4 linked regions of the Homo sapiens genome follow. The protein of the gene in region 1 purifies or fractionates together with the protein of each later gene. This does not show direct contact. Each region holds a gene or a part of one and is shown in the gene's direction. Other genes may lie near its edges.

Region 1 (7,397 bases):
ACAAAATTTCACCACAGGTGTGCTCTAATAATTTCCTCTGCAGGGTCCACCTCTGCACACAACGATTTTCAAGCCTGTGCAGGAGGCAGCTCTTGGCCCTCTATTCCTTGTTGGGGTTGGAGGTCCAGGTCATCTGGCCTTTGCCAGGTGGTGTGGACAGAGAGAGAGCAGCCCACTGGCTTCCTTGGCTGTGCTCCCCAGGGAGCTTCCAGGCCAGCTGAGCCTCCTCTAGGGCAGATGGATGAAGATGAGGTCCCCACCTCGCTGAACAATGTGTGTGTCAGCAGAATTCTTTTCTTCTTTTTACTGCCTTAGAGAGACATGCTGACTTGGTCAAAATCACTTCAGCAAGATGTGACTGATGATGTAGGAAATGAAAACTCCTGGCCCAGCACTGGGAGGCCAGCAGGCGAGGGGCGCGGACACTGGGACCGGGCCACCCGACACAATAACACCCCTTACAATTCCAGGCCGTCTTTCATCCAGGCAAAGGCGGCCCCAGGTGTGGAGCAGACTGGGGCAGATCAGATTACGGTCCTGGAGCCCAGTGCTGGGTGCCCTGGCCAGGGGAACCACAACTGGGGGTGTGTGGGTTGGGGGCTAGCTGCTGGGGAAATGAGATAGGACCCAGGGAAGTCCCTGGGCCCCAGCTGGCCTGCAGGGGGCCTAGGCACAATGTGAGGATTGGAATGCAGTGATGACCTTTTCATCTCTCATGTTCCCTTCCACTTCACTCTCTCTTTTGCTCTGGTACTTTTGCTCTTGCTCTCAGAGTCAGGATACATCTGCTTTTCTCTGCTTGGCCAAAAAGCAGACCATCATGAAAAGTTTTGTTGTTATTTTGTAACTCAGGAGGCTTTCCTGTTACCATATTTTCCTTTTCATCCAGATGGTAACACAATAACATTTATCAAGGGTTTTCTCTGTGTTCCAGGCACTGTGCAAAGCCCTTTCCATGAATTAAGTTCTGCAACCTCACAGCGATCCCAGAAGACAGGCGCTATCAGTCACCCCATTTTACAGATGGGGGAACTGAGGTGTAGAGAGGTTAAGTCCCTTGCCCATGGTGCACAGCTGGAAGAGACAGAGCTGGAGTGTGAATGCGGCTGGGCAGGCTCCAGTGCCCAGGCTACCTCCTCCACACAAGACTTGCCCTCGGCAATCTCAAAGCCTTTTCTGGTGGTGGGCTCAGCTCCCAAACTGGCATCGGATGCACTCCCAGCCAGATATTTCTTGCTTGCCGGTTTTCATTCATTCATTCATTCATTCATTCATTCATTCATTCGGCATTCACTGAGGGCCTGGTGCAGTCTTGGGGATGCCTCTCGGGGAGGAAACAGGGAAAAGAAAGACCCCCCCACCAAGCATGGATCACAGAAAAGATAAGGCTAAATGGGGGTTTGTGGGACTTCAGAGGAAACCTTATCTCTTGAGGTCTTGGATATGAAGAGCATGTTGTCTCTTCCTCTTGCATGAGAAAAGATGGCGTCTCAGAGGAAGGGTTGCTGGGGTGAGGGATCTGGGAGATGCCTTAGCTTGGCGCCTGCACAGTCAGCCCTCAGTCAACCGGTCTCTTTAGGTTTTGGCTGTGCTTATTACTATTCATTCAACAGGTACTAATTGAGCACCTGCTGTGTGCCAGGCTCAGAATAGGCTCAGGTGAGATGCACAAAGAAGGGTAAACTAGAATCCTTGCTTAGACACTGACGGATCAGTTGTTTCATATGTAAATTGTAGCACCAAGACCTGCTGCCCCTGCCCCCAGCCTCACCTGCTTGTGAAGATCCCTCCAAAAGATTTGAGAGTAGATAAAAAGCAGAGACTACTACTGAAGAACAGGGCTGCTTTGGCTCCTTATTATTTCAGACTTTGGAAGAAAATGACCTCCTTTTTCTCTACTGGCACTGGAGGTGGCATAGCCTGTCCCTAGCAAGCCAGCGCTGGAGGGCGTGTGCAGGGCTGGGGACCGAGCCTGGTTTCTGTTCCCTGCTCTGCAGGGCTCAAGCACTTGCTGTTCCTCCACCTGGGATGCCTTTCCCTGGAAAAGCCTGTCTCTTTCTTGTCTTTCAGGACTCAGGTCAGTGGCATCTCCTCCAAAAACTCCCCTTCCCACCCTCCATCACCTCACCCTGTTTATCTGCGCCCCCGCCCCCACTGCCTGTCACTTATTGCAGGCTGAAGTGACCCAGGCTCTCCAGTTGTACACTCTCAGATGGACCCTGGACGACTGTGGCACTCCTGCAATTTCCCCAGTCTCCCTGGGGTAGGATTCCTGCTTGCCAGGATGCCCACCTTTCCTTCTCCCTCCTGCATGTCCTCCTCTGCCTGGCTTCTGAATTGTTTCCAGAGAGAGTGATAGACAAGATCTGCCTCTCCTTCAGTCCCTGAATCTTATTTAAGGCTCTTGCTTTGCTTCCCTGGCCTGGAGGCCGGCTCCTTGATGGAGTCTGCCATGTGGGTTCGCTCATGGCCATGTCTTCCTGCCCAGCATGGTGCTTGGCCCTGGGACTGGCCACATAATATCTGGGCCAGGTGCAAAATTAGTACGGGGCAGGGGGTACTTTGTTCATAGGTGATTCAGAACCACATATGGTGACCTCAGAGTAGGAAACCAAGTGTGGGGCCCTTAAGAGCTGGGGGGCCCTGTACGACTGTCCAGGTTGCAGGCCCCACAGCTCGCCTCCTGATATCCTGTGCTCCATGCTTGTCTGTTGAAGGAAGGAGTGAATGGATGAAGAGCAGGTGGTGGGGGTGGTTTGAGGGCCTTGCCTGGTGGGTGGGTAGAGGCCCCTCCCTGGCATGGGGCTCAAGACCTGTTCCATCCCACAGCCTGGGGCCTGTGTGTAAATGGCCAGGACCTGCAGGCTGGCATTTTTCTGCTCCTTGCCTGGCCTCTGGCCTCCCCTTTCTCCACCCATGTGGCCCCTCAGGCTGCCATCTAGTCCAAAAGTCCCCAAGGGAGACCCAGAGGGCCACTTGGCCAAACTACTTCTGCTCCAGAAAACTGTAGAAGACCATAATTCTCTTCCCCAGCTCTCCTGCTCCAGGAAGGACAGCCCCAAAGTGAGGCTTAGCCAGAGCCCCTCCCAGACAAGCGCCCCCGCTTCCCCAACCTCAGCCCTTCCCAGTTCATCCCAAAGGCCCTCTGGGGACCCACTCTCTCACCCAGCCCCAGGAGGGGAAGGAGACAGGATGAACTTTTACCCCGCTGCCCTCACTGCCACTCTGGGTGCAGTAATTCCCTTGAGATCCCACACCGGCAGAGGGACCGGTGGGTTCTGAGTGGTCTGGGGACTCCCTGTGACAGCGTGCATGGCTCGGTATTGATTGAGGGATGAATGGATGAGGAGAGACAGGAGAGGAGGCCGATGGGGAGGTCTCAGGCACAGACCCTTGGAGGGGAAGAGGATGTGAAGACCAGCGGCTGGCTCCCCAGGCACTGCCACGAGGAGGGCTGATGGGAAGCCCTAGTGGTGGGGCTGGGGTGTCTGGTCTCAGGCTGAGGGGTGGCTGGAAAGATACAGGGCCCCGAAGAGGAGGAGGTGGGAAGAACCCCCCCAGCTCACACGCAGTTCACTTATTCACTCAACAAATCGTGACTGCGCAGCTACAGTGGCTACCAGGCGCTGGGTTCAAGGCACTGCGGGTACCAGAGGTGCGGAGAAGATCGCTGATCCGGGCCCCAGTGCTCTGGGTGTCTAGCGGGGGTAAGAAGGCAATAAAGAAGGCACGGAGTAACTCAAACAGCAATTCCAGACAGCAAGAGAAACTACAGGAAAGAAAACAAACGTGCGAGGGGCGAGGCGAGGAAACAACCTCAGCTTGGCAGGTCTTGGAGGTCTCTGGGAGGAGAAAGCAGCGTCTGATGGGGGCGGGAGGTGGTGAGTGGGGAGAGGTCCAGGCGGAGGGAATGGCGAGCGCAGAGACAGGCTGGCAACGGCTTCAGGGAGGCGCGGAGGGGTCAGCGTGGCTGGCTTAAAAGGATACAGGGACTGAGGGGCAAGACCGGCTCAAGGGTCACCGCTTCCAGGAAGCCTTCTATTTCCGCGCCACCTCCGCGCTCCCCCAACTTTTCCCACCGCGGTCCGCAGCCCACCCGTCCTGCTCGGGCCGCCTTCCTGGTCCGGACCGCGAGTGCCGAGAGGGCAGGGCCGGCTCCGATTCCTCCAGCCGCATCCCCGCGACGTCCCGCCAGGCTCTAGGCACCCCGTGGGCACTCAGTAAACATTTGTCGAGCGCTCTAGAGGGAATGAATGAACCCACTGGGCACAGCTGGGGGGAGGGCGGGGCCGAGGGCAGGTGGGAGGCCGCCGGCGCGGGAGGGGCCCCTCGAAGCCCGTCCTCCTCCTCCTCCTCCTCCGCCCAGGCCCCAGCGCGTACCACTCTGGCGCTCCCGAGGCGGCCTCTTGTGCGATCCAGGGCGCACAAGGCTGGGAGAGCGCCCCGGGGCCCCTGCTATCCGCGCCGGAGGTTGGAAGAGGGTGGGTTGCCGCCGCCCGAGGGCGAGAGCGCCAGAGGAGCGGGAAGAAGGAGCGCTCGCCCGCCCGCCTGCCTCCTCGCTGCCTCCCCGGCGTTGGCTCTCTGGACTCCTAGGCTTGCTGGCTGCTCCTCCCACCCGCGCCCGCCTCCTCACTCGCCTTTTCGTTCGCCGGGGCTGCTTTCCAAGCCCTGCGGTGCGCCCGGGCGAGTGCGGGGCGAGGGGCCCGGGGCCAGCACCGAGCAGGGGGCGGGGGTCCGGGCAGAGCGCGGCCGGCCGGGGAGGGGCCATGTCTGGCGCGGGCGCAGCGGGGCCCGTCTGCAGCAAGTGACCGAGCGGCGCGGACGGCCGCCTGCCCCCTCTGCCACCTGGGGCGGTGCGGGCCCGGAGCCCGGAGCCCGGGTAGCGCGTAGAGCCGGCGCGATGCACGTGCGCTCACTGCGAGCTGCGGCGCCGCACAGCTTCGTGGCGCTCTGGGCACCCCTGTTCCTGCTGCGCTCCGCCCTGGCCGACTTCAGCCTGGACAACGAGGTGCACTCGAGCTTCATCCACCGGCGCCTCCGCAGCCAGGAGCGGCGGGAGATGCAGCGCGAGATCCTCTCCATTTTGGGCTTGCCCCACCGCCCGCGCCCGCACCTCCAGGGCAAGCACAACTCGGCACCCATGTTCATGCTGGACCTGTACAACGCCATGGCGGTGGAGGAGGGCGGCGGGCCCGGCGGCCAGGGCTTCTCCTACCCCTACAAGGCCGTCTTCAGTACCCAGGGCCCCCCTCTGGCCAGCCTGCAAGATAGCCATTTCCTCACCGACGCCGACATGGTCATGAGCTTCGTCAACCTCGGTGAGTAAGGGCAGGCGAGGGTACGCGTCTCCTTTCGGGGGCACTTTGAGACTGGGAGGGAGGGAGCCGCTTCTTCTATGCAGCCCGCCCAGCTTTCCGCTCCTGGCTGAAATCGCAGTGCCTGCCCGAGGGTCTCCCACCCACAGCCCTATGACTCCCAAGCTGTGTGCGCCCCCAGGTCGGGCGCGCTGGGTTCGGTGAGCCTGTAGGGGTTACTGGGAAGGAGGGATCCTCCGAAGTCCCCTCCATGTTACGCCGCCGGCCGCATCTCTGGGGCTGGAGGCAAGGGCCGTTCAAAGCGCGGGGCTCGGTCATGTGAGCTGTCCCGGGCCGGCGCGGCTCGCGCTACCTGGATGTAAAGGGCCCTTCCCGGCGAGGCTGCCTTGCCGCCCTTCCTGGGCCCCTCTCAGCCCTGCCTGGCTCTGGCATCGCGGCCGTCGCACCCCCTTACCCTCCCTGTCAAGCCCTACCTGTCCCCTCGTGGTGCGCCCGCCTTAGCGTACCGCGCGCTCCGAGCGCCTTGGGGCCCCTCTCCGGGCCGCCGGATGCCCCATTCTCTCTTGGCTGGAGCTGGGGAAGAAACGGTGCCATTGCTAATTTTCTTTGTTTTCTTTCTTTGTTTATTTTTTTCTTTTTTCTTTTTTTTTCTTTTCTTTTCTTTTTTTTTTTTTTTGAGACGGAGTTTCACTCTTGTCGCCCAGTCTGGAGTGCAATGGCGCGATCTCTGCTCACCGCAACCTCTGCCTCCCGGGTTCAAGCGATTCTCGTGCCTCAGCCTCCCGAGTAGCTGGGATTACAGGCATGCGCCACCATGCCTGGCTAATTTTGTATTTTTAGTAGAGACAGGGTTTCTCCATGTTAGGCAGGCTGGTCTCGAACTCCCGATCTCAGGTGATCCTCCCGCCTCAGCCTCCCAAAGTGGTGCTGGGATTACAGGCGTGAGCCACTGTGCCCTGCCGCTAGTCTTCTATTTTAAGTATTTAGTGGTAGGTCCCGGGCCGGCAGAATCTATTTTCAGCATTTACCACGTGTGGCGCGCAAACCACAGGTTTTGGCGATTGGGTTGCGCGGGATCTCAGAGCTGACGCCGCGGGGGCGGCTGGGGGTCCCGGTTTCCGACTGGAGCCGCGACGACCCCGGCGACGCGAGCCTGGGGCTGCAGCGAGGGCCGGGGAGCTCCCCCTCCATATGTGCGCGCACATTCTCCAGACTTGCTCAAACTAACCCCCCGGCAGCGCCAGCGCGCTGCGGGACTGATGATCAAATATTTGGTTTCCGAGATAACACACCCCGATAGCGCTGTTTCCTGAGCCGCTTTCATTCTACTTGTGTAACTTGCTGCGAAAACCCGAACCAAGTCAAGACAGCAAACTCACGCCCACGGGCGCTGTGTCAACATGGAAATAATGATACTGAAGCCCCACGCTGGGCACCTGGGGCGTGGACTGGGGGCGCGGGGGAAGCGCAGATCCGCCTTCATGCTTCCCCCTCCTGATAAGGTCCCTGGAGTTCCCGGGAGGCCATTGTCTGTACTTAATAATAACTAAATCCAACTAGTGAACCAAGCTTCAGCGAGCAAGGGGTGGGAGGTTTAGATGCCAAAATACCTTCAAAAAAGTTTAAATTATACTAAGCAGCCAGTTAAGAAGGAAGCAGCAACATATGACCTGATTTAGAACCATCTCCAAGATGTATGAGGTGGAAAGAAGCAAGGTGCAGATGAGTGGGCTGCATGTGTGCTTGTATATCATCGTGTCCTCCTGGAGGAAGACACCAGGAACTGGAGAGAGATTTTACTGGAGGGGTAGAGAGGCGGGGGCATAGCTGGGGCTTACGGAGTGGGAGGTGGGGTCTGATTTTTCGTCGTCTGCACTTCTGTATTTGTGATTTTTTTAAAACAATGTGTATTTATTAACTATACCAAAAACTAAAGGAAAATTCCAAATACATACATATAAATAATGAACGCAGAGCTCTGTCGCCCTCCTGAAGCCTGGGGTTAGCCAGGGCCCTTTCTCTGGTGGGGGATTTATAGCATCTTCCCTTCTGTTGGGTACCCCGGACTCCCACTGAATGTGC
Region 2 (7,025 bases), on another chromosome or scaffold:
TACAAGCTGATTGAGCTCGAGTTTATGTAACTATTCTTGTCCAATCTGTTCTTTTAACAATCTCTTATGGCCTGGCTTTTTGTGCTTTTTTTTTTTTTTTCTGTAATGGCAACCTTACTGGTGTAATTAGTAGTCCAAATATATTTGGATAGTTCTTATGCTTATGTACTAAGCAGCTAAAGAGGGAATATTACAGGATGGTTAAAAGTACAGACTCTGGAGATGAAATGCTTGTCATGGATCTCTGAATCTGTCACTTGCTAACTTTCTGATTGGGGGACAAATTAACTTCTGTCTTATTTTTCTTTTTATCATCTGTAAAATGTGGTATACCTTCTTCATAGGGTCATTGTAAAGGTTAAATGAGGAAGACAGTGCTTCCTGACTTTTTTCACATGGCACATATAGAAAATGATGAATTTTTACAGGTGGGTAAAAGAATGAGCTACAAGGAAATCCTACATAGACCTTGCATGACCGCCTCCAGGACTGGTGGAATCAGTAGTCCAGCTATACTTCCCGCTCGTTAATGGGCCACAAGTATATCATAGGATACATGTTGAAGAGCTGTGAATTCATTCATGAAAAATATTTTAAATACATAGCAGAAGTTTAGAAAGCCTGAGTCATTGTTTCATATAAGTAGAGAGGACACTGCAGTAACTAAAGAACTGCCATTCCTGCCAGGCAAGAAACTCAGCATCTTAAACTATAGACTGTCTGTCCTAGAGGTATTAAAGTTTTCATACTTCATAAAGGTGTTAAACATTTGCATCTGTCTTTCAGATATTGTTCCGGTATCTTACAACTTTTAGTCAACACGCGATTAGAGCTCAGTTAAGAGCTCATTAAGTCTTTGGGCTACATATTGCTTATTGATTGTGGTTATCATTTCACTACCTAATTCTCACTTTTGTCTATAATTAGGGTCGTCGGGCTGTTAAAGCGGGAGCTTATGCTGCTTGCCAGGAAGCAAAGGAAGATATAAAGGTAACTTTCTGAATTAGGGGGAAAAAGAGAAGTTAAAGATGAATGTACATTACAAGAGCCCAAGTAGAATAATTTGAGTGATGATGTCGTTGAAGTGGTTTGGGGCACCTAGATGCAGAGATTTGGAACTGGCAGGGTTATGTGATTTCTTCATTTGAAGTATAAATCCCTTAACTAAAAGCAAATTTTAAATGCTATTTTTTTGGTTCGTTCCCTTCATTTGTAGAGTCATTCAGAAAATGTCTCTCAACATCCACTTCATGTAGAAGTATTACACTCAGAGATTATGGCTCATCAGAAATTTGCTTTGCGTCTTGGTTCCTGGATGAACAAAATTATGAGCTATTCAAGTAAGCATACCTCCTGTTTTTCTTGTTTCTGATAAAATACTATGTGTTTTATAGCCACAAATTTTAAAATGTCATTGAGTATGAAATAAAGTTTTTCTTTTTTTTTTTTTTTTGGTTTATACACTTTGATTAATTTTCAGGGTTGCATTTCAAATGTATAATATCTTAGGATATTATTTCAAGTGCATAGTATCAAATAATATCTTTTTATTGGCTGTTGAGTCTTTGATGTTGACAGAATTATTCTTTGCCTCAAATGTGGGAGGATTAATATTATTCTTTTCACATGTTATAGGAAATGTACTTTTAGGAGAAATGTTATAAGAATAAAAATTATGGCTGAGTACAGGGGCTCATGTCTGTAATGCCAGCACTGTGAGAGGCTGAGGTGGAAGGATCGCTTGAGCCCAGGAGTTCAAGACCAACCTGGGCAACAGAGTGAGACTCATCTCTATTTAAAAAGAAAAAGAATACAAGTTGTGTAACTGTGTGACCTCTTTTGTTTGTAGGTGACTTTAGGCAGATCTTTTGCCAAGCATGCCTTAGAGAAGAACCTGACTCGGAGAATCCCTGTCTCATAAGCAGGTTAATGCTTTGGGATGCAAAGCTTTATAAAGGTAAGTAGACATTTGCTTATGCTGTTTGTCAGGAAGCAAAGGAAGATTATGACCTTAAAGTGGAGCTGTAATATCTTTTGTTTATTAAATTAGTTATTAAATCTGTAATCTTGATTGATAAGATACTACATGTGAATATAAAGTTTAACCAGTCAGTATGTATTCTTTGGTGTTAAAACCCAGGGATGTTGTCTTTTAATTATAGAGTCTTTTCATTTAGTGAGAGCCAGTCAAAAAGAGTATATATGTATGTGTCTATACATGTATCTATATATTCAGGTAGTAGTGCCATTATCGAGTAGCGAAAAAGATGCTATTTTCATTGTAAAAATCTAAATGAAGAACAAAACGTAAAAGGCTAAAAGCATGGAGAAGGAAAAGTACAGTGAAATAGAAAAAGAATGAAAAGGTTGGGAGAGAGTAAATTGAAGTGTAAGATGAAGTGGTGGGAGGGGTGCAGAAAAAGAGGGAAAAGGCAATATATGTGTGTATTTTAAATTCCAGTTATTAAATATTAATACAATAAATACTATTTGAGGTCTGTTTGCATGTGAAGTAATTTTATAATATTCTGCCACTCTAATAGCCAGAATGTTTTTGGTTTTTGCCTTGGTGATTCTCCTCATTCCCCCACCCTCCCCAAAATAATCTATAGGTGCCCGTAAGATCCTTCATGAATTGATCTTCAGCAGTTTTTTTATGGAGATGGAATACAAAAAACTCTTTGCTATGGAATTTGTGAAGGTAATTATTTATAAATTAGATATCAATAAATAGAAATAGGCAGTTTTTATAAATGAATTAATAGAAACAGGGATAATTATGAATCAAAAATTAAATGTTATGATTTATTTCTTTGTCAAAAGTTTGTTCTTGGCCCTGCGGGTTGGCTCACGCCTGTAATCCCAGCACTTTGGGAGGCTGAGGTGGGTGGATCATTTGAAGTCAGGAGCTCGAGACCAGCCTGGCCAACACGGTGAAACCCCGTCTCTACTACAAATACAAAAATTAGCCAGGCATGGTGGCAGGTGCCTGTAGTCCCAGCTACTCAGGAGGCTGAGGCAGGAAAATCACTTGAACCTGAGAGGCAGAGGTTGCAGTGAGCCAAGATCGCGCCACTGCCCTCTAGTCTGGGCAACAGAGTGAGACTCCCATCTCAAAAAAAAAAAAAAAGTTCGTTCTCATACGTTATATAAATATTTTCACAAATGTTATTTGCTAGTATAGAAACAGCATTCTTAGAGAAGAGATAGGTGGAAAATGACCCACTGACCCAGAGCAAAGGGAGGTTATCACATTCACATATGCATTCAGTCTTCCTAATCATTTATTTGCCTGTTAGTAAAATTACAATAAGAATAGAAGTGACTAATTGAAAAGTATAGCAGGAAAGAAGAACAGATGTGTATGCTAAAGTGGGGGGCAGGAATTAGGTGGCCAAGAGTTCTACTTAGTTTTTGGAAGCTAAAGCATAAGGCTAAAATTTACAGCTTTTTAATGTTTTATTAATCTATCGTGTATCTCTTACCTTACTGTATCTTTTTGTCTATCTACCAAATTAGATTGCAAGGGTATACAGATCAAGGACTCCTTTGAATCTTTTATTTTGCCTTATATAAGGCAATCATACTTGCCAGTCATACTTGTTGATTTCCTCTGATTTTGAGTTGCAGTCAATTCTGTAAGACTTAAGATAGATATAGGACCCAAGATGGAATTGGAAGCAGAGAAAGAAATAATGATTGTTGTAGGCAAATGACACTGTGGGATAAGATACCTGCATTACCTGGATTTTATATGCAGACTTAAAAGTAACTAAGACATTTGTTGTATGTCTTATCCTTCAGCAGTGATGGCAACTCAAGATGTTCTCTTCTAAAACTCTTCAGATATAGAATATTGGACCATATGTGTGATCTGAAATGAAATTTTGTTTTCTTATACAAAAGCTAATCTCCCTACTTAGATGATTTTTTTTGTACACCATGGTTACCCCTTAAACTTTGTAGGAATTCTGGAGGGTAAAGTATCTAACTTAAAGTAGGTTAAGTATCCAACTTTGTGCCTTACACATAATAGATGCCTATTATGTGACTGAGTATATTCCTATTTTTGTTCTCCCAGTATATCAGGGTTGTTTTGCAGCTGTTATGTACCAGTATGGGAAAGAAGTTATTTGCAGCCAGCATCCATTCTGTTTAAGGCTGGATTCAATCTGATTGGTTGGTTTTTCTGGGTCATATCAGTTGTTAAATACTTTGAATATATTCCCTGCCCAATACCATTAGAGTGGAAGCTGCTAAAGATTGCCCCAGATTCTGTTTGGAGAAAGGATAAACTATACCATTGCAGTCCTCTGTTTTTTGTTTGTTTGTTTGTTTGTTTTTTAACCTATGTGTATATTTTAATAGTTTCCACTTCTATCTCTGCTAAATTGAGTAGGTGAATTTTTACTTGATTTGTTGTTTGTTATTCTCCTTCTAAGATATTTTTGCTGATCATAATATCTTGCCTTAATAAATAGGAATTATATTACTTGACATTTTATAGATAGAAACAAACCTGCAGCAGTTATTAAAATTGGGATTTTTTAAAGGTCTTTAGTAGTGATTTATAATTGATTCTCTACTTATATATTTCAGTATTATAAACAACTGCAGAAAGAATATATCAGTGATGATCATGACAGAAGTATCTCTATAACTGCACTTTCAGTTCAGATGTTTACTGTTCCTACTCTGGTATGTATTGATTATTCCTTTTCAGTCTTTCTAAGTAAAACTTGTTTTGCTTTGTAAGAATTCCACTTAATGTTGAATCAAATTAGAACAATGTTAGAATCACTAAGTTGGGCTATGTGAATACTTTAGTGCTACCCAAGGACTAGTTAACTAGGCGCTGCCTTGGTTCAGATGTCCTCGTCAATGCAGATGACACCTAGAGCTGGTTTCTTACTTTCTAGAGTAACTTATGAACACTGCCTTTTCAATACCAAAAATATTTTATTTTTAAGTTATTGTTTGTAGGCAGATAGAATAAGATAAAACTAAGAAGTGGGAGGGTGTGCCTGTCAAGCATTTGGGAGAGAGGGTGCTGCATAGGCCTGGGAGGAGAGTGGAAGATTCTGCTTCCTTTGTATACCACTTCTTTTCTTTGTTTTTTGTTTCTTGAGACAGAGTCTTGGCTGGGTTGCCCTGGCTGGAGTGCAATGGGACGACCTGGGCTCACTGCAGCCTCCGCCTCCCGGGTTCAAGCGATTCTCATGCCTCAGCCACCCAAGTAGCTGGGACTACGGGCAGGCACCACCACGCCTGGTTGATTTTTGTATTTTTAGTAGAGACGGGGTTTCACCATGTTGGCCAGGCTGGTCTCAAACTCCTGACCTCAGGTGATCTGCCAGCCTTAGCCTCCCAAAGTGCTGGGATTACAAGTGTGAGCCACCGCGCCCAGCCCTACTTCTTTTCTTGTCTGGAATTAGATAGTTATCCAAACTTGGTTAATTGTTTCTACTTTACTTTTTCAAAAGGATGGAGAGGAGAGTTTAGATTGGGGTAAGGAGGAGATTTCAGAATAGATCGTAGTGTGCTAGAAGTCATGAAGTATATCTTTGTTATACTTGCTCATTGTGTGATTTTTTTTTTTGAGATGAAGTCTCTCTCTGTCACTCAGGCTGGGGTGTAGTAGCACGATCTCGGCTCACTGCAACCTCCGCCTCCTGGTTCAAGCGATTCTCCTGCCTCAGCCTCCTGAATAACTGAGATTACAGGCATTGCCACCACACCTGGCTAATTTTTGTATTTTTTGTGGAGATGGGGTTTTGCCATGTTGACCAGGATAGTCTCGAACTCCTGAGTTCAGGTGATCCGCCTGCCTCGGCCTCCCAAAGTCCTGGGATTACAGGCATGAGCCACCACATTACTGATGATAAACATTTATCTAGATAACCTGTCTAATGGGCTTGGAGTATCCAGATAGGTGTTGTCTAGTTACTGAGGAGTAGGGAATTTTTTCTTTTAGAAAATAACTTCTTAGTAGTTGCTATTCAGTGAAACTAAGGACTGTGTTTAACATTCAATAACAAACATTTATTAAAAATGACATACTGACTAACCAAATGAATGAATAAATTAAGTCCATACCACAATGAGTTAATGCTAAAGAAAATATTCTTGAAATATTCCGCAGGCTCGACATCTTATTGAAGAGCAGAATGTTATCTCTGTCATTACTGAAACTCTGCTAGAAGTTTTACCTGAGTACTTGGACAGGAACAATAAATTCAACTTCCAGGGTTATAGCCAGGACAAATTGGGAAGAGTATATGCAGTAATATGTGACCTAAAGTAAGTTGTTCAAGTCAAAAGGTGAGGGCACCTGTTAAACTCAGTGTGCTTATTTGCTGTGTCTTATAAGTAATCCTGTGATCATTTTGGTTATCCAGAATTCTCTTTATAATGATGGCAAGTACAAAGAACTGTTACTGCCTCGCGTTAATAAATGTCTTCAGTGAAGGCTTCTTATTGAGTTGTAAAACCTGGTTAGTAAAGAAGGTATTGAGGAGAGGCCCATTACAGGAACTTGGGATCTCCTGGGGTCACCAAATGCATTGCCATTGTAATTACCATACTTTTCATTCACTTCCACTCACACACTTTGGTTCTGTCCTTCCTATATAGTCTCTTTGTGCATAGTTTCAGACAATCTATTGACATAAATTTCTTTCTTTTTTTTTTTGAGACAGGGTCTCGCTGTGTTGCCCAAGCTGGAGTGCAGTGATGCAAACATGGCTCACTGAAGCCTCAACCTCCTGGGCTCCAGTGATCCTCCTGCCTCAGCCTCCCATGTAGCTGGGACCACAGGCACGTGCCACCATGCCTGGCAAATTTTTTATTGTTTTGTAGAGACGGAGTCTCACTTTTTGTTGCCCAGGCTGACTTGGACTCCTGGGGTCAAGCAGTCCTTCTGCTTTGGCCTCCCATAGTGTTGGGATTACAGTCATGAGCTACTGCGGCTGGCTGTTAACATTTTTTTAACTCCTTTTTGCTATACAGTTGATCCTCCGTATTTG
Region 3 (7,025 bases), on another chromosome or scaffold:
TATAAGTATCTATAATTGTAAATTCTTTATATCTCTTTATACTTCCATTAAAATTACTGTCTCTTGGTTTTAAGAGCAAAGAGGTTAACAAGGATATCTACTGCAGAGAGTTTTCAATAAAGATTATTGTAGTGTTTTTACAGATGGAGCCAAGCAAGTTGTTTCAGTGGGACTCTGATGTTAAATGGATTCAAATATACTATAGATCAAATGATAAACCTAGAAACATAACTGTATAAATATATCATGACATTTTGGTGCTTTCCTTTAACGCCATTATTATTAAAGGGATTCACAGTTTTTTCTTTATGACTCTTGTATATGAAGTAAATTTGTTTATAGAAATACCCTAAAATACTTTTACACAGCAATCTATGTTTATTATAGAAGAGTGATAAGTACAGATTCCCTAAAACATGATCCTCCCACCCAAATTTATAATTATCAACTTTTTAGCATTAATCCTATCAGATTACATATATATGTATAATTATTTATTTATTTATTTTTGAGATGGAGTCTTGCTGTGGCACCCAGGCTGGAGTGCAGTGGAGCAGTCTTGGCTTACTGCAACCTCCACCTCCTGGGTTCAAGCGATTCTCCTGCTTCAGCCTCCCAAGTAGCTGGGACTACAGGTGTGCACCACTGTATTAATCTGTTCTCACACTGCTATAAGGACATGCCAGAGACTGGGTAATTTATGAAGAAAAAGAGGTTTCATGGACTCAATAGTTTCGCATGGCTGGGTAGGCCTCACAATCATTGTGGAAGGCGAAGGAGGAGAAAAGTCACGTCTTACATAGCGGCAAGTAAGAGAGCTTGTGTACAGAAACTCCCCTTTATAGAACCATCAGACCTCGTGAGACTTTTTCACTACCACGAGAACAGCACAGGAAAAACCTGCCCCCATGATTCAATTACCTCCCACTGGGTCCCTCCCATGACACATGGGGATTATGGGAGCTAGAATTCAAGACAAGATTTGGGTCGGACACAGGCAAACCATATGAGCCACCCCAGCTAATTTTTGTATTTTTGGTAGAGATGGGGTTTCACCATGTTGGCCAGGCTGGTCTCGAACTCCTGACTTAAAGTGATCTGCCCATCTTTGCCTCCCAAAGTGCTGGGATTACAGATTTGAGCCACTGTGCCTGGATGATATGTATATTTATACAGATACATTTTTTTAAAGAAATGGGATCATGTATGTTTTATAATTATTACATCCATTATTGTGAACATATTAACATGGTAATAAATATCATTGTACATGATTGTTTAAAGTAGTTATTAAGTTTATATGTTTGTCCATATAATTTATTTTACTGTCTCATTCTTGCACATTCATGTTGTCTAAAATATATAAACAATGCAATAAACATCCATCTACATGAATTTTTGTTATTTTAAGATTATATCCTTGGGCTACAATAGGATTAGATAGAAATAACTTTGAGGAGGGGAAATATAGAACTGTGGCTTCAACTGAGAAATACAGTGTAAAGAGGAAAGAACTATACTGTGGTTTTGGTCTAAGTTTTGTATTTATCAGGTATTGAACCTTGGGGAAATTATTAACTACTTTAAACCTGCAGCAGGTTATTTTGACCCTGAGGATATTCTGACCCCATTGTGTATTCAAGAATTTAACAGAAAGGCTCAGAACAATGGTAAGCTTATAAATCATTAGGCAGATCTGCATTAGGGGCACATAGACTAGTGTGGGAATTGCTGATATATTTAGTTTTCTCTTGGGTCTAAGTTTAGTATATATAAAAATGATGACACTAACCCAGTAGTTCTCAACCCAAGGTGATTTCTCCCCCTCAGGGGACATTTAGCAATGTCTGGAGATGTTTCTTTTTGGTTATCAGAACCAGGAGGGAGGGGTGCTACTGGCATCTAGCGGGTAGAGGCCAGTGATGCTGCTAAACAGTCCATGACACACAGGACAGCCCCTCACAACAAAAAATTATCTGGCCCAAAATGTTCATAGGGCCGCTGTTGAAAAACCCTCATGAAACCAACTTCTTTGTCAAAGCTACTGTTAGAAACTTTAGACTCACTAAACTTAACAGAATTTAAGCACAGAACAATTTGTGAATTGGGCAGTCCTCAGAACCAGAATAAGCTCAGAGAGCTCCATTCTGAAACGTGAGCAGGCAGCATTTATGGACAGAAAATGGAAGTCAGGTACGGAAACAGCTTACTTGGCTATAACTCAGTGTTTGCCTTACTTGAACACGGTCTCATCAGTTGGCAGCCTGTGGTTGACCCAAGCTCAGCTGCTCAGATTGGCTAAGACTCATCTATTTGTTACCAAAGTATACTCCTAAGTTCCGGTTTCAGTTAATTTACATACAAAGTTATGTTGCAATTCATTACATAAGGACTCCAAGTACGGAGGCATCCTTAGACCAAATTTGGTTGAATTTAACAATTTGCCCCTTTGGTTAGCTTCTCAATTTTGACAGATTCACTGAAACTTTGGGCATTGTTGCCACTCTCTGTCACCAACTTAATGGACTTACTTGGTCTCATTATGGAATTTAAAAGCCATGATGTCATATCAGTTGAATAATTCTTTATGTTCTTGCTGTTCTGGTCAAAGTGAGACCATTGAATGCTCAATGAATGGCTGCATACAAACATTTAAGACTTGAGAGGATATGGTGCACCAGAAGGGCTATCATGAAGAATCTCAGGATAATAATAAAGACTGTAGTGTACTTCTTAACAGGAGCCCCTGTGAACTGAACCAATCAGAAATCCAGCAAGGTTCAGGCACTTTAGACACTTCAATAGTATTTGAGTCTAGTTCAAGTAAACCCACAGTTTACATGAAGAAAGGCATACATTTGCTTCTTTTGCCTAAATTATGTTACCTGTTGTCTTATAAGTATTCTTATTCCCCTTTAGAGAGTAAACTACCTCACTTAAATCATTATAGATGGCTTGACTTATAAGCACATTAGTAGGTGGGATGTTTTCAAAGGAGAAAACATTACAGCTTAAAAACAATACTTAAGAAAAAATTTAAAATTATAATTATTCATTTGTCAAACATTTATTGAATATCTGGTAGGTTTCAGGTATTGGGGATAAAATGATGATTAAAACTTAGGCCTTGCACCAAGAAAAAAAGAGTCCTGTAGACTAAACAGTAGTCTTCAAAAATTTTTCTTATTTATCTGCTAGGAGGATTTTAAAAATATGTATCCCTTTGAACATTTTTAGGTTAATAGCTAAAGTTTTCCTGGTAAGTTTAAATAGTTGCAAACGATGACATTTCCAGTATGTTGTAAATATTGGCATTTAAAAGAAAAAATATTACAAATTCTGAGTGTATCTTTTAAGTGGAAACAGAATATTCTAGTAATTTAGTACAAATTCTGAGTGTATCTTTTAAGTGGAAATAGAATATCCTATCTCTATTTTGGAAGTAGATAAAAAGCTCTTCTTTAATTGTTAGAAAATGTCTCTTATCTCCTTGAATTTGTATTTCCATTACAGAAGCATAAATCAGATCCTGTGCTAGCAGAAAGACTAATGGAGTGATCAATTTGTGCTAGAGGAAAAGTTAGGGAAGGTTCAATGGGGAGATGAAGATATTTCAGTAGTAGTTGTGTAGAGGGCAAGTGGTGTGAGAGAGATGTGGAAGGTCTTCTAGGCTGAGGAGATAAAGTGTTAGTCACTGAGATAGGAATACAAGAGGTGGAGCTGGTTAGAGGTGGTTAGGCGCACACAATGGACAATATAGAATTCTGTTTCTGTGTGTTTGTTGAGTTGTCTCTGGAATATCTAGGTAAAGTCTCCAGTAGGCTACTGGCAGGTATGAAACTCAGGAGAGAGATCTGAGCCAAAATAGACATTTAAAGAATTAGTTGTATATGGTGTTTGAAGAGTACCCTTAACTGAAAAAAAAAAAAAGGTTGTATAGAGGTCAGAGTTGGGACATTGGTATGGATTAAATGACTGAGGAAAGTGTAGTGTAGTAACAGAAGATGGCCAAGAACATCAATGTTTGAGGCAGAGATGGCAGATGCCTGGTCCATATGAATGTCATAACTTTTCCCTTTTGTCTATTGCAGATGTGGCTCATTGATCACCACCCTGTTTCCCAATGAGTCCAATTTCCGTTGTGATTTATTTTTTGGATTTTTTAAGAAGCCTGTTGCTTGATTTCCAAATGTTTGGGGATTTTCCAGTTACCTTTTTGTTACTGATTTCCAGTTTAATTCCACTGTGGTAAGAAAACATAATCTTTATGACTTCCATCCTTTAATTTTCTTTTTTAATTTTTTTTGACACAGAGTTTCACTCTTGTTGCCCAGGCTGGAGTGCAATGGCGCTATCTCGGCTCACTGCAACCTCCGCCTCCCTGGTTCAAGCAATTCTCCTGCTTCAGTCTCCCAAGTAGCTAGGATTACAGGCATGTGCCAGCCACCACGCTCAGCTAATTTTGTATTTTTAGTAGAGATGGGGTTTCACTATGTTGGTCTGGCTGGTCTCAAACTCCTGGCCTCAGGTGATCCACCCACCTCGGCCTCCCAAAGTGCTGGGATTATAGGCACCAGCCATTGTGCCTGGTCTCATCTTTAAATTCCTTGAGACTTGCTTTATGGTCCAGCCTATAATTTATTTTGGTGAATGTTCCATGTGCATTTAAAAAGGATATGCATTCTGATCATGAGGAACCAATTACAATACTAAAAAGTGCTTTATAAAATACAATATTCAGTTGATAGGTTGAGAAAATAAAAACATACTTGCAGTAATACTTAAATAAATAATAAATAGAATATGCATTCTGTTGTTGGGTGTAGTGTTCCATAAATGTCATTTAGGCCAAGTGATTAATAATGTTTTCCAATCTTCTCTTTCTTTACGTCTATACTTGGTCTTTGCCAGAAGGCTGAGAAAAAATTATCCTTATCCTGTATCCTTCTTTATTTTTTCCTACTTCTTCCATTATTTACCAAGAGAGCTACTTAAAGCTATTAATATCTAGATGTGATTGTGCATTTTTCTATTTCCACTTTTAGTTCTGTCCGTTTTTGCTTCATGTTTATTTCCCAGCTCCCTCCCTGCCAGGTCACCATTATGGGTTTGCTGTGTTACCCAGAAGGAGGCTTCCTAACACAGTGACCCTCTCTGCTTGCTCTCTCCCCTTGCCCCTTCAGGCCTAGGGGCGGTAATGACTTTCTGTTATTGCTAGTCCTAGGATACTGCACCATCTTTTTTGGTTTCCGTAAACTCTGCTATACCTTTGTAAATAGTTCCCTTTTTGTACTCTCCTCAGTTACTCAGTTTGAATGTACTGTCTTTCAGAAATGTGAGGTATGAATTTTACTTTTTTTAAAAAAAAAATGGACAGCCAATTGTCAAGTTACCATGAATTTGTATAGTCTGCCCTTTTTCTAGATTATTTATTAGAAGGATGATGTCGGTCAGCTCTAACACTCAGGGAATGTTTGTAATGAGAACCTGTGCCTGAAAACGTTTTTCTTATGTTCAGATTAATTACTCAGTATCATTTTGTCAGGAGGCCAAATAATTACAGTCTTTTCAGGAAGTGAAATAACATTTGTAAAGACATCCTATTTGAAAATACTGTAACTATAATTCTTGAAACTACTCTGTAATAAAAGCCAGTAGATAATATCACTTATATTTGTAAGCAAGCTTATCTTTTAAAAGAAAAGCTACTGTAGAAAGTAGCTAATTTATAGGTTCTTTCCTGCATTAAGGAAAATAGGGCGAGATGACCAGTCAACCAATACCTGGCAGTAACTAAGATTGTACTATATGAGGCACTGCTGACCACCTGTTTTTTGAGGGTGTTAGAACTTAAACGACCAAATGATCTCAAACATGCATTAGAGATCATCTGGAGGGCTCATTGTAACACCGATTGCTGGACCTTAGGGTTTCTAATTCAGTAGGTCTGAGGTGGGGCCTGAAGATTTATATGACTTACAAGTTCCCAGGTGACGTTGATGCTTTGAGAATCTCTGTGATAGATTGCGTGAAGACAAAGAGTTAATTGGACAGGGGAGGAAAAGGGAGCGGTGCACGGGTTATGGAGGAGCTTTGCAGGCTTTTGAATTTTGGTCCTCATCATCTTTTGCCTTGCTTTTTTCTGGCTGCCAGTTTTGGACCTAGCAGGGATTTAGCTTTGTGTGTAGTCCTTATCTTCCTCTCTCAATTTACCACATACCTGTAATAAATTTCTTTATCTGTTAAAAACTCTGTTATGGATTTACAAATTTTCTCATTTGTAAAATTTCTGTCTCATAGGATTATTTTGAGAATGCAAAAAATACTTAGAAGGTAGTAAGCATTCAACAAATGTTGGCTATTGTTATTAGTACCATGATTTAAGGCCTTAGTGTTCAAGGTATCTTGCTAGCTTTAAACTGGCAGTGCTGAAAGATGAGTTTTGCACGACTACTTTTTTGGAGTGTCTCTGAGCCCTTTCCAAATGAAATTCTAGATGCAAATGGTATCACCATGCCTATTTTGCTGTTAGAGAGAGCACAGCGGGGAGAGATTATTCAGTTTAGTCCTCGGCTTTAGAAGATCACTCGGAAATTAAGGTTACATTAAAAAATAGAACTGTATAGAACTTACTGAAAACTTTTGCCTGCTTTTGCTTATTTCATGTAGGAATTCTTGGCTTTTATTTTTTATTTATTTGAGACGGAGTGTCGCACCGTTGCCCAGGCTGGAGTGCAGTGGCGTAATCTTGGCTTGCTGCAACCTCCGCCTCCTGGCTTTAAGCGATTCTCCTGCCTCAGCCTCCCAAGTAGCTGGGATTACAGGTACGTACCACCACGCCCAGCTAATTTTTGTATTTTTAGTAGAGACGGGGTTTTACCATGTTGGTCAGGCTGGTCTCTAACTCCTGACCTCAAGTGATCCGCCTGCCTTGGCCTCCCAAAGTGCTAGGATTACAGGCGTGAGCCACTGCACCTGGCCAGTTCTTGGCATTTATGCCACTGGGGCTTTATTCCTTTTATGCA
Region 4 (7,025 bases), on another chromosome or scaffold:
GCATGTCCAGCAGCAGTGAAGCCCAGGATGGCACCAGAGGGCCAAGAGGTGGGACAGATCCATTGGATCTTAGAAGCATAAGAGGCCTCTCTCGGGCCACCAACCAGTGAGATATCTTTCCTCGGACATCTGTCAGATGACATCATCACAGTCAGTTTTTGCTTTGATTATTGTATCATAGAGAGTTTTTGACAAATTGAGTTCTGCATTAATTTTATCTTTGTAGTCTAGTGTAAGATTCATTGTGTATTTTGCATTTTAAAATCATTTCTTCTCTATCAGGGATCAGTATAAGAAATGGCATACTCTCGAATCCAGGCAAGGAATTTATTCCACCTAATCCATGGTCTAGTTCTGGCTTGTCTGGAAAATCTTCAGGGACAATGTCAGTAATCAGCAAAGTAAATTCAGGTGAGTAATGATCATTAACCCCTAAATGGCAAAAAGCAAATTCCCTGGATGCAGGAAGGTGGGCACAAGGAGTCATGGGACGGGCTTTGGAAGCACAGGGGCCTTTGTCATCTGAAAGCTCAGGCCTCTTTTCCAGCCCTATCCTCCTCTCTTTCTCGGCAGCAGTCCCTTGGGACTCAGCCAGCTCCCAGGGGAGTCTGCCTTCCAGGGTAGCTGGGGAGTAGAGCATAGTCATCCCTGGCTCAAGGGAAAAACAAAAATACCTTTACAGACTCTTACTAGGCCTGATGGCTAAAGCCCTGGCTGCAGCAGGCACCCTCCTCTTGAGGTGGAAGTCACCCTTGGCTGTGTCTGCCTTGTTCCAGCCTGTCCCCTCCTTCTGATGACCCAGCTGCAGGCCCAGAGTATCAAGATCCCTTCTAGTTGGAAGGTGGACAGTTTGGAAGACCCTCCCCACTTTTTTTGTTAAACGGATGAATGAATTTACTGAGTCCCAAGGCTGACAAACCCTGTTCACAGTAGAGACGTTTCCTGCATCATTTTTCCCTGATGCAGGCAGCCCCTGCCATGTGCTGCTTTCCCCTCTGCACTGCCAAGTGCACTGCCTTCATCCATTAGGTGTTTGTTTAATTTAAGGAAAATAAAAAAGAAAGAGATAATATAGCAACACCTGTGTAGCCATCACCCAGCTTAAGAAGTCAAACTTTGGCCAGGTGTGGTGGCTCATGCCTGTAATCCCAGCACTTTGGGAGGCTGAGGCTGAGGCAGGTGAATCACTTGAGGTCAGGAGTTTGAGACCAGCCTGGCCAACATGGTAAAACCCTGTCTCTACCTAAAATATAAAAATTAGCCAGGCATGGTGGCAGCAGGCCTGTAATCCCAGCTACTCAGGAGGCTGAGGCAGGATATCACTTGAACCTGGGAGGCGGAGGTTGCAGTGAGCCAAGATTGCGCCACTGCACTCCAACCTGGGTGATAGAGTGAGATTCTGTCTCAAAAAAAAAAAAAAAAGTTGAACTTGGCAAATACACATGAAGCCCAGTGTCTGTGCCTTTCCCGCCTCCCTGCTTCCCCTTACCTCCCCCCATGCCAGCCTGATCGAGTGTTTATTTAGGTTTGTATAAACTTCATAGTGTGGTTTTGCAGGTTTTAAAATTTATGTGAAGATAATCTTGGATCACTGCTTCATGCATTTTAATAAATATATGTGTAGCAATTATAGAGATATATATCATATATTATATAACATATACAATATATATCTATACAACACCATAACTTATTATTTATGTGGACCATAATTTATGTATGCCTTCTCTTCTTGATAAATACATAAGTTGATTGCAATTTTTGCTATTAGAAAGAGTGCTGAGATGATTATTGTACCCCTATTGTTATGCACATGTGTGAGGATTCCTCTGGGTACGAGAACTAGGAGTCAACATTTTATTTTATTTTATTTTATTTTATTTATTTATTTTTATTTATTTATTTATTTTAAGACGCAGTCTTGCTCTGTTGCCCAGGCTGGAGTGCAGTGGCATGATCTCGGCTCACTGCAACCTCTGCCTCCCTGGTTCAAGCAATTCTCCTGCCTCAGCCTCCCAAGTAGCTAGGATTACAGGCATGTGCCACCACACCCAGCTAATTTTTTTTTTTTTTTGTATTTTTAGTAGAAACAGGGTTTCACCATGTTGGCCAGGCTGGTCTCGAACTCCTGACCTCAGGTGATCCACCCGCCTGGGTCTCCCATTGTGCTGGGATTACAAGTGTGAGCCACCATGCCCAGCCAGAGTCAACATTTTAGGTTAAAGGGTGTGCTCATCTTCAACTTCACAGATATTGCCAAACTACTTGCTCTCCAGCGGGATATGGGAGTTGCTCTGCATCCTTGATGCCACTTGGTACTGTCAAGACTAAAATTTGTGCTAATCTGATGAGTGAGAAATGGTATCCTATTGTGGTTTAAACTTGCATGTCCTATTTACTAATGAGGTTCATCATCTTTTCTTGTGTTTATTGACTATAAGTTTTTTCTCTTTTGTGACTTACCTGTTCAAATTCTCTTCCCATTTTTCTTCATGTTTCTTCATTCACCAAAGTACAAAATACACCCCAGCTGACCAACGCAACTCCTCACGCAGGCATTCTAGACTGTGTTTCCACTCTGCCTTAAACAATTGCTGAAAAAGCTCTGTGTTGTGAAAACAGAGCAACTCTACTACTTACTGACTTTTCTTAATGGTTAGAATTTCCATTTCTATAACGGGCAATAATAACAGTCTTCATTATTCCATGTGTACCTTTAAGCCTAAATAATAAGAATTATATTCATTCACCCATCCAAAATTAATTGATTATCTGCTATATGCAAGGCATTCTGTTATCCTCCCCAGAATACCAAGACGAGTAGCATACAGTCCCTGCCCTTAAAGCACTCCCAAGTGGAAATGACATAAAAAGTTAAGGTATTTCACATTGTAAAAAATGGTTAATTTTTCTGATGTGGATAAGAATATTTAGTGTGTAATTACTTGTCACAGCTAAATAATTTAATATAACCTGTGTGTTGATCAATAAGAAAATGGTTAAATGGATTATGGTTTAGCCATACTCTAGAATTTATATGTACTCACATGGAAGGATAACTATTCTATATTATGGAGTGAAAAAAGCAAATTTTAGAATAGTCTAAATCTACTTTTACAAAAGAAAATAAAGAACAAATGTCATATTTCCCTTTTTTAAAAAAATTTCACAACCAACCCACCCTCTATTTGGTTGCCCCTCACAGGAGCAGCACTGTCTTTGGCCCCCGCAGTCTTTCTGACAGGGTAGTATGGTGGGATGCTTGGCTCTGAACTCATTTTTATCATGATTTGCTCTTTTCCCTAAAAGTAAAAACTTAGTTTGTTATTGCTCTGCAGTGCTGTCATTTAACCTTGTTGGTGTCCTGGGTACATGTCTTTGTAATAATGAGCTTTTTGCTTTTGCAAATCAGTTGGTTCCAGCTCTACAAGTTCTAGTGGACTGACTGGAAACTATGTCCCTTCCTTTCTGAAAAAAGAAATCGGTTCTGCTATGCAGAGGGTACACCTAGCACCTATTCCAGACCCTTCCCCTGGTGAGTTGTATTTTAAATTATTCATGAATTTACTCAACAAATGGTTACTCAACAACTGCTTTGTGCCAGGCATGTTTTAGGCCTGGGATCCACCAATAAATGAAACTTGCACTCTACAGACAATAAGTAAGCTAAATAAGTGCTATATAACATATAGTAAGTCAGATGCTTACTGACTTAGTGCTAAGGAGAAAAATACAGCAGACAGGAGGTAGGGATTGTGGGGGTTGGAGTGTGGGGTACAGGTTACAATTTTAGATAGAGTAGCTAAAGAAGAGCTCACTGCAAAGGAGTTGTTGAGTAGAGACCTGGAGGAGGTGATTGAGCAAGCATACAGTATGAGTGAGGCTTTTCCAGACAGGAGATTGTTCTGTGCTTGAGCTTTCAGGCAGAACTGGCCTGGCAAATTCAAGGAGCAGCAAGGAGGCCAGAGTGTGGGAGTGACAGGAGTGAGAGGGGGAGTAGCAAGATGAGGTCAGGGGTGATACGATGCCTGTAAGCACATTGTCATGGATTCTGAGTGACGTGGAGTCCCTGGAGGGCTTTGAGTCCATAAGTGAGGTGATCTGACAGCCATCTCCACAGGCTCCCTCAAGCTGCTGTTGTCATGAGACTGAAGTAGGGGCAAGGTAGGAAGCAGGGAATCCAATTAGGAGGATGTTGAAATTATCCAGGTAAGAAATGATGCTAGCTTGGGCCAGCGTGGTAGTAGTTCAGTTGGTAAAAAGTTGCCAGGTTCTGTAAATATTTGGAAGGTAGAACTAATAGGATATCCTGACAAATTATATGTGGTATATGAAAAAAAGAGGGGTCAAGAATGATGCCATTATTTTTGGCCTGACAACTTTAAAACGATGTCTTTAACTGCAGTAGAGAAGATTATAAGTAGGAGACAAGATGCTCCTCTTGAACTCCTTATTTTCTCATGTTTTTGTCACCAAAATGCATTTATTTGTACTTTGCTTACATTGGCCCCATATCAGTCATGCCGGCCTTTTTCTTTCATTGCAGGTTATTCCTCCCTGAAGGCCATGAGACCTCATCCTGGGCGACCATTCTTCCACACCCAGCCTAGAAGCACTCCTGGGTTGATACCACGGCCTCCAGCCGCCCAGCCAGTGCATGGCCGGACAGACTGGGCTTCCAAGTACGCATCTCGGCGATGACTGTCTGCCTTGGTGATGAATCTCTTCCTAGGGAGAAGCAGGATACTTTCCCTCAGCTGACTGGTGTTCTACCTGCAAGATGTGCAGAGGGCATAAAAGCAAATCAACACTTTATAGTTATTCTTCTGAACTAAGACATGTCAATATTCTTTTTTAAAGTTTTTTTTTAAAATATTGATTTGAATGCAGTAGGCTTTTTTGTATAAAATTATTTTATTCTAAAACTGGGTCCCATTATTTTCTTAAACAACAGCATTTTGTATATATGGATTATGTTTTAGCATTTTATACAGTCAACTTTGTAATGAACTTTTTAAAAATTAATTGATTTTCCTTTGGGGTTCCAGATAATATTTTCTACAGATTTTGAAAAATGTAATAATATTAATGCAGTATTGCAACAGGGGTGCAATTTAAGGCTATGTGATAGAGGGTTATTTACTCAGTGTGTGCAGATATTTATGAAGTGGTGAAATTTCAAGTGTGGCTCACTAGGTACTTCAGGCCTTCTTGGACTGTTGTTAGAAAAGTGATCCTCTGCTTTTCTTAGTAGGTCATTGGTTTGATTTTTGGATACCACTCTGCTGTTCTAAAAGGACTATTATATTATATAATTCACTTTGTTTTACTTTTGTTCCCCAGATGAAAGAACTCTAAGTAAATACATTTTAAAAAATTTTTCTGACACCCTTTAATGTGGTTGCAGATCTCAGATGAAACCAAGCTTAATTATACTATGCCATTATATTCTAATTTATTCCATTTTTGAAATCAAGTTGTATGTGTACCAATAAAAGAGATTTCTGCTTCAAAAGGCTCTCAACATGAAGGTTAACACAGTCAATCAAACTTACATTCCTGCCAAGATGCATGGCCAAAAAACTAAGTATCAAAGCAGCAGAAGGTTTTTGATTATAGTAACTGAGATGGAATTTTGTGCCTAGCTCAGTTCTCCAGATCTGGCTAGGAGCAGTCAATGACTAATGTTCTGTCCTAGCCAAATTCTCAGGACAATTTGGGGAGCAGAAAGAGTTATGGCAGAGGTTCCACTCATCTACAAAGTCACAGTCACATGCCACATTTGATCTCCTAACCCTGGTGTAGTTTCTTTCAAGAGTGAGAACTTTATTTGTTGGGCAGAGGCTGTTCCATTGAGAGGAATGTTTACAGCAGTTTCAAAAATGACAAAGTCAGTTTGGAGACAGAAAAAGACAAAAGGTCCAGTCTCATCCATCTCTATATGGTACATTTGCCTCACTTATGGTTGCCTTAAAGGCAAGAGGGAAGGTCACCATCAGTGAACGCAATGCAATCTCAACAGTGTATTGATTCATATTCTCCTAGGGCTCAAACTACTCTCTATTGGTTCCAGGATAATGACAAATTGAACCATATGTAAGTAATCTTTTATTTTTTATTTTTTTTTTGAGACAGAGTCTCACTCTGTCACCCAGGCTGGAGTGCAGTGGCGCGATCTTAGCTCTCTGCAACCTCTGCCTCCCAGGTTCAAGCCTCCTGAGTAACTGGGACTACAGGCGCCCGCCACCACGCCCAGCTAATTTTTTGTATTTTTAGTAGAGACGGGGTTTCACTGTGTTAGCCAGGACGGCCTCGATCTCCTGACCTCGTGATCCACCCTCCTCCACCTCCCAAAGTACTGGGATTACAGGCATGAGCCACTGCACCCAGCCAAGTGATCATTTTTATAGGTTAAAATGATAGGTGAAATGAATATAGACACTTTCATATGGTTCAACCTAATGACTTGGTAAATTATTGCCTTGGTGTATTAATAATATGTTGCATTCTGAACAAATAACCATGGCTTCCAAAGGGCCCTAACCTAAAATCGGAGAGTAATTTATGCTTTGGAGAATTTGACTCAAATATATACTTGACCAAGCACCATGATCCCTAGGGGCATGAGAAAAGCACATAATGGATGTGGATGTGATAGGTGGTCTTTTCCTGTTAACAAGCTGGCAGCAAAGCTTCAGAAAATATATATGCAAGCACAACTTGAAGCTGAATTCATTTCTGTATTATATTCTCAACTCGTTATCTAAAGCATCAGAACATGTGTTTTCAGAGATGAGTCCTTTACTATAAGGTTAATATTTATTTTCATTTTCTGTATTATATATGAAAAGTAAATTAATGTGAAACCTGGCCCAGCTTGCTGGAAAGCAGGTTTTAAATTGTAAATATTCCTTAGAGGAGCAAATGGATTGTTTAATACCATAGTCTCAGTAATCTAGCTTATATAAGGTCATTACATTTTTTAACTGAAAAACCTAGTTACCTGATTATTGCACATTATAAAA

What was found.
Region 2: the proteins of BMP7 (region 1) and UBR1 purify together in Homo sapiens (affinity purification with mass spectrometry; 3 studies listed by BioGRID and IntAct, with this or other methods). This does not show direct contact.
Region 3: the proteins of BMP7 (region 1) and VWA8 purify together in Homo sapiens (affinity purification with mass spectrometry; 3 studies listed by BioGRID and IntAct, with this or other methods). This does not show direct contact.
Region 4: the proteins of BMP7 (region 1) and CILK1 purify together in Homo sapiens (affinity purification with mass spectrometry; 2 studies listed by BioGRID and IntAct, with this or other methods). This does not show direct contact.

Annotation. Positions count from the first base shown.
Region 1 is NC_000020.11:57,263,626-57,271,022, reverse strand, and holds the start of BMP7 (bone morphogenetic protein 7 preproprotein), read left to right. Parts: upstream 1-4,381; 5' UTR 4,382-4,900; coding exon 4,901-5,318; intron 5,319-7,397. UniProt on the Homo sapiens protein: Growth factor of the TGF-beta superfamily that plays important role in various biological processes, including embryogenesis, hematopoiesis, neurogenesis and skeletal morphogenesis.
Region 2 is NC_000015.10:43,054,017-43,061,041, reverse strand, and holds part of UBR1 (E3 ubiquitin-protein ligase UBR1), read left to right. Parts: intron 1-927; coding exon 928-990; intron 991-1,216; coding exon 1,217-1,340; intron 1,341-1,849; coding exon 1,850-1,957; intron 1,958-2,612; coding exon 2,613-2,701; intron 2,702-4,599; coding exon 4,600-4,698; intron 4,699-6,142; coding exon 6,143-6,300; intron 6,301-7,025. UniProt on the Homo sapiens protein: E3 ubiquitin-protein ligase which is a component of the N-end rule pathway. Recognizes and binds proteins bearing specific N-terminal residues that are destabilizing according to the N-end rule, leading to their ubiquitination and subsequent degradation.
Region 3 is NC_000013.11:41,951,091-41,958,115, reverse strand, and holds part of VWA8 (von Willebrand factor A domain-containing protein 8 isoform a precursor), read left to right. Parts: intron 1-7,025. UniProt on the Homo sapiens protein: Exhibits ATPase activity in vitro.
Region 4 is NC_000006.12:53,002,825-53,009,849, reverse strand, and holds part of CILK1 (serine/threonine-protein kinase ICK), read left to right. Parts: intron 1-282; coding exon 283-411; intron 412-2,250; exon of another isoform or gene 2,251-2,361; intron 2,362-3,412; coding exon 3,413-3,535; intron 3,536-4,546; coding exon 4,547-4,701; 3' UTR 4,702-7,025.